Homo sapiens: one gene and its partner. The protein of the gene in region 2 purifies or fractionates together with the protein of the main gene of each other region. This does not show direct contact. Each region holds a gene or a part of one and is shown on either strand. Other genes may lie near its edges.

Evidence for each region.
Region 1: the proteins of CPNE4 (region 2) and RGPD5 purify together in Homo sapiens (affinity purification with mass spectrometry, with the first as the bait; 2 studies listed by BioGRID). This does not show direct contact.

What each region holds. Positions count from the first base shown.
Region 1 is NC_000002.12:109,855,733-109,858,347, reverse strand, and holds the end of RGPD5 (RANBP2-like and GRIP domain-containing protein 5/6), read right to left. Parts: intron 2,487-2,615; coding exon 2,452-2,486; 3' UTR 643-2,451; downstream 1-642.
Region 2 is NC_000003.12:131,552,358-131,556,021, forward strand, and holds part of CPNE4 (copine-4), read right to left. Parts: intron 3,195-3,664; coding exon 3,140-3,194; intron 135-3,139; coding exon 83-134; intron 1-82.

The sequences.
Region 1 (2,615 bases), on a different chromosome or scaffold from region 2:
ATCCAGGGTTAGCTCTGTTCCTCCTCCTTGTGGCATCTGTGTTTCTCTTTCTGCTCTGCCTCTCCCCATCTCCTAGTCCAAACATCCAAAGAAATAAATTACCTCCAGGAGATCGAGACCATCCAGGCTAACACGGTGAAACCCTGTCTCTAGTAAAAATACAAAAAATTAGCCGGGCATGGTGGCCGGCGCCTGTAGTCCCAGCTACTTAGGAGGCTGAGGCAGGAGAATGGCGTGAACCTGGGAGGCAGAGCTTGCAGTGAGCCGAGATCGCGCCATTGCACTCACGCCTGGGCGACAGAGCAAGACTCTGTCTCAAAAAAAAAAAAAAAAATTAATGACCTCTGCCCCTAACTGAACAAAGCCCTTCATCTAAGGCCACCCTTTGGTTGGCAGCCTTAGCCAGACATCTGCTTCTGGTCAAATCAATGTCTTGTCCACAGGGAGGCCCAGCGCTGTTTCTGGTTTTAGCTGGATGCAGGGTGTCAGACATGGCAGGTACTACGGTCTACCTGGCGGGTATCAAAGAGTTGGTCGACGTTCTCACAACAACCTAATAGGGACCAACCATGGAAGGCCAGTAGTAAAGGAGTTTGAAGTTCCCTTTCAGAAACCAATTAACAACCCCAAAGAGACAGTGGGTAACATAAAAGAGCAGCCATAAAAATATACAGTTTTAATAGAAATATTAAAATAATCATTACACTTCCTCTCATTGCAGAAACCATGAAAGAATATGCCTTTTGTAATCAAAGTAATTTTTTATCATGCAAAAAAGTATTTTGTTATGACATTCGTAAGTGGAGACTGTATTTCAAAACAAGTTTATACAGACTTCAAAAGGTCTAAAGTCAAAGTGAAATATATTTAAATATGATTAGTTACATCTAATGCAGCTGGCATACTCATATTCACAGTTTATAAAGTAAAAAAACTAAACTCTTCATGTCGGCTCTGAAATAGATGCATTTTCATTCATACATTCGCTAGTTAGGTCTGTTCTTCTAAGGAGGAAAGACGAGATATATGAGATATTTTTTAAAGAACAAACTCAACATATCAGCAGCAAATTTCAGTTAAACTAAATTGGAAACCAATGTTCTGTGTAACCAAAGTGCAAAGTCAGTTCCCCAGCTCAGAAAGAAAATTAAGAGTATAAACTGAAGGCTTAAGAGAACTTCAGAGAGCACACTGTGTGATTAATACATAAATATTAAAAATTATCCAATTTTTGATTTAAGAACAACACAGTTTGGATCTAGTCATTAAAACATATGCACAGGTGTCAAAGGCAAGTAACACTACCACCTAAGGTTATTCGGAGGAACTGTGAAGATGTAGCACGGACCTCTAAGGTGTCTAAAATCCCTTCTGATGGAAAGGTTATGGAACACTATCTGCCAAAAACACTGAAAGCACCACTTTTATATTTAGATCCAATGCTGAGTGATATAGTCACTGTTGGGATAGGTTTTTATTTGGGAAAATGGAGAGGATTCTCAAAACAGATTCATGGCTTGCATGCAGTGACACCCTATCAAGAGCCTGGAAAGACACCATGAAATCACCTCAACTCAAGTGGTGGGCCCACCTACTCATAGTCAGTGTTACACTAGCCAGCTCTAGGGCTCTGACAACATAATGAGTTTTGAGGTAGTATACTTTAAAGAAAAAAAGAAGAGTTTATTTTAAAGCAAATAACTAAACTGTATTTTAACTTAGCACAATTAACTGCAGCATATTTACTTCATAGCCCCTTAACATGTCACTTTTACCAACAAAGCTTTTTCCTTCATATTCTAATCACAAAAATTTCTCAACAATTTATAACAATCTGTAAATCTGACCTTGCAATAAATAGTCATAAAACGTTATTTTTATTACTATTATTATTTTTAGAGACAAGGTCTCGCTCTGTTCCCCGAGCTGGAGTGCAGTGGTACAATCACAGCTCACTAGCCTCAAGCGATTCTCCAGCCTCAGCCTCCCAAAGTAGTGGGATTTCAGGCATGAATCACCACACCTGGCCTTGAAACATTATTTTTAAAGCCTAAATTCCAGTTGGTATGGTACCAAAATTTAGTTTAACTTCAAAATTCACAGTACTGCCGAGAAATGGGCGGGTCCTGAGGTTCCAGAGAAGTGGGGAGTGAATTCATTCCTGGTGGTTTTATTCTGGCAGCATGCATGGGAGATCACATGAGTTAGAGGGCTGTGGCCTGGTATCAACACTTCAAGCTGTTGTACTTTTACTTCAAGTTGAAACTTTTAAAATACATCTGTCATACAGATGTACAAATATATGTAAATGCAAACATATATACACACTTTTTGACAAAAGAATAATGGTAACACACACGAACCATTTTTGTAAACAGATTCTATTTGGTTAATAGAAGTATTCCTTCCATCAACCTATCGAAGTCCAAACCAACTACGAAGATAGGATGCTCATCCAGAAGAACGGGAAGCATTTTCTTCCTCATCTTTAGAAAGTAAAACAAAGAAAAAAAAAAGAAAAAAGAGAGTATTAAAATTTCTCAATGTAAAATCTATATTTTAGAACCACTCTACAATATAAGCAAATAATGTCTTTTTTACTGATCACATGCCTT
Region 2 (3,664 bases):
TACACCAGCAGAGATGAACTAAAATGGGAAAGCTGCAAAGGGAAGGACTGTGACACTGGCTTTCTTTCACGTTGTGCTTTACCTGCACATTCTGGGTTGTCTTCATTAAAGTTGATTGCAAAGTCATGAGAGACCTAGACACCGATTAAAATTTAAAAAACAGGAAGAAAGAAGAATTACAACTTTAATCCAGTAAGAAGGCACTGGGGTTTAGAGTTTGCAAACAAATGCCCATTATATTCATTATGTGTTAAGCAGCAGGAACCATTTCAAGCCTTTACACAATCAATATGAGATGGAGGGTGAATTCTAAGCTCCCTGTGGAGTTGAGGTGACAGGAATATTTTCTAGAATCAGATAAATGCTGTCAGGAGGGGAGAATAAGGCTTATAAAAAAATCCAAGAAAAGATTTCAGAAAGATAACTTTGAATAGCTGCTAGTTAGAACTGGCCACAGACTGGAGGCTTAGATTTGGCTGAGCTCTATTTGGACCCAGTGATTAAAACAAAAATAAAAACAAAAAAACTCAATAACCCAAGCTGTCTGCTGAAGATAGCGATGGTTATAAAAGCTTCAGCTAAGCAGTTGACACTTAAGAATCATTAACATGATATGCAGAACTACAGGGCAGGAGGATTTTCACATACCTACAGGTAAAACAGACTGCACTCTACTTTTGGAAACATAGTAAAGTAATATACTTTGTAATATTTCAACACAAATTCCTCTACCTGGCAGAACCTATGCACAAGGTCAAATAACATATTGTTTACTTTTTTCTTTCCGAAAACCTGATAAAACAAGATAGATGTTCTGGCATCTGGACATTTTTATTGAATCATTTGGTATTTTATGGAGAATTTCATTTCAAAGGATATTTCCAAGCTCTGACTCTTTTGGGTATCCATAAATTAGGTCACTGTGTTAAAAGACACCTGTTTTCTTAGTGGGAGGTGATCGGTGATGCTCTCAGTGCTTATCCTAGTCCCTTGCTCTTAGCACTTCCAGGTAAGCCAGCTGACTTCAGTCATCTTATTTGCTTTGTTTACCTTAAGTTTTTTCTTGGCCTCCAGGGCCTGCCTTGCTTGCCCAAGTGACAGGCTAAAAGTGACCCTTGGGAGTAATCAGTAATTAACAGGAGGTGATGTATACATATCCCAGCTCCCTTATCCCTTGGGGTCCATGTGTGCTGTATATTGTCTCCTAGGGTTCTTCAGCAGAGTTAAGCACCAGTTGCCAACAGCGGTAACTGACTTGATAATATACTCTGTGCTGACTTCCACTTCCCAACCTCTATTGTGGTTTCCCTCACCTTTTAAATAAACTATTTGCATCCAAACCCTTGTCTCAAGATCTGTTTCTGAGAAAGTGCTAACTAAGAAAGAGAGGTGCTTGTGTTTCAGTTTCAATGCATACTTTCAGATTTTGTCCTAAGAAGTAAATTGTGGCAACCTTGTAAACTCTCCTGGGGGCACCTGAGCTGCTCAAATCATCAGTGCTTGTCTGAGGAATGGGAGAAATTAGGGGACCCGAAATGGGGAAATGTGAGAGATGCCTATTGAAACAAGAATAACCAGGGGATTTTGCTGACAGGAAGGATGGAGTTAGGGGATCAAGTGAACAAGAGGACTTCAGAAAACAGCAAGAAAGATTAGTTACTCCAGGAAGGGAACCAAAAAGATGTCATTAGTGAGAAAAAGGTATGGTGCATAGCTCTGTCCTCAGCCCTGTTGGGCCAACCTGAGGCTGGAAGACCACCTGGTGGGGATGTGGTGAAAACTCAAGAATCCCTGGGTAGTTGGGCTGATGGCTATTGAGCTATTCAGCAGCTCTATGAAGAAAGTGGGCATTCACCTGTTTACATTCCCGATTTGAAGGGGCCTATATCTCCTCAGCTCCAGCTTATTCTTGTATCGGTCATCTTTTAATCTTAGTGTTGCCAGGCCTTTCAGGTTTTCAAGAGAAACCAGAAATCTGACATTTTATATATGCAATTGCTGAATTCGTTTTTTAAAAGTGTGTCAAATATAACATATTTGTGGCCTGAATAATGTCTATAGGCCACCAGTTGATAACTCTTGTTCTATATTCTTTCTCTCCACAAGCTGTATTTCTAATAAATGCTTCTAGAATTATGTAGCTATGCCCAGCAGAAAGGCCAGTGTGGAATACAAGGCAAGAAAGAAGGAGAACAGGTCAGGGAGACAAGCGATTCCATCCACTATTCACTCTAGGAGCAACAGGGATATTGATTTCCTCTTTCAAAAAGGATACCTAAGGGGAAAGCCCTTTATATGATGGCTCTAGTGAGGGAGCAAATGTCAGCATCTACCTCCTCACCTGTGGCTCAGACACAGCCAGTAAAAGAGAAATTGAGGATTGGGCAGTGTTGTTTGTACTTAGCTCAGACCTCAGAGGCACTGGTAAGGTGGAGGCTGGGAGAGGTACCCTGCTGTCTCTCCAAGGCCCTGTCCACCTAGTGGGCACGAGTTCTCTGTGGAGAATGTTCTACAGGAGCATCTAGAATATCACAGTAGTGTCTCAGCCTCATTACAGTGCAAATTTATCTACACACAATCTTTGCCTTTTTTCTGTCATGAGAAATCATTATCAAAACCAAATAGGATTCCAACGTCTTCAGAAGAACATTTCAGCTTCCCAATTCTCTAAGTCATAATAGTTCTTTCTTCAAAACTTCTCTGTGTCTCCCATACAAGACTTGGACTCGGAGACTTGGGATAAGAAAGTCTGTAGACTCCATTGTCACGGACTTTCCCAGTTGGCATTGCCAATAGAATTCTATTTCCTAGGGGATATACGAGTGAATAGGTTCTGAGCCCCTGGAGATCAACTTCTTGAGTGTTTTCTCAGACTCTGACCACATTTATAAGAAACTAAACAATGAAACTCTTCATCTGGACCTCTGAGAAGACCCATCCAAAATACCAGGAGATAGGGTTTCATCAAGAGACGGGCCCTGGCGAGTTAATCTCACTGATTCTGAAGACAATTTCTGACTCTGTAGGCCCTACTGACACAGTTAGGTCAGAGTCAGGAGTGTGAGACTGCTGCAAAGAAGAGCCAAGTTATCCTTTGACCACAGTGAAGTGGAAGAAGATCACATCTCCACTCACTCACCGTGTACTCTGGAGGTATCCTGGCGCCAAACCCAAAGGCAGGGAACATTTTGTCACTGAAACCAAAATGAAGAAAAGAAAAAACAAGAAGTTGCTTCATTTATTCATTTAATGAGAAAGAAAAACATTAACCTACATTACTAGGTTGCTAGGCCATGTTGCTATGCCAGTGCTGACTCATGCTTCTTGATTGTCTGTGGTGATGGGGGTAGCAATAGCATGGATAATTAAAATCAAGAAACAGCCCCTTAAGTTCATTACAGTCATTAGTCTACAACTTCCTCCCTTAATTTTTTTGCTAGATTCTATACTAAGAAATAAAATGGCCCTACCCTTTCATCAATGGCCTCCACTTCAACTTTCAACTTTGTTTCCTTTGAAAAGTGACCATGAACTAGGTAACTGTAATGGTTGACTGTGTTAGAACCTTTTGTATGTATCATCTTTTAAAATACAAGGAGAGATAGTTATTCCCCTTCTGCAGGTGGGGAAATGCCTTGAGAGGTAAAGTGACTTGCCCAAGATC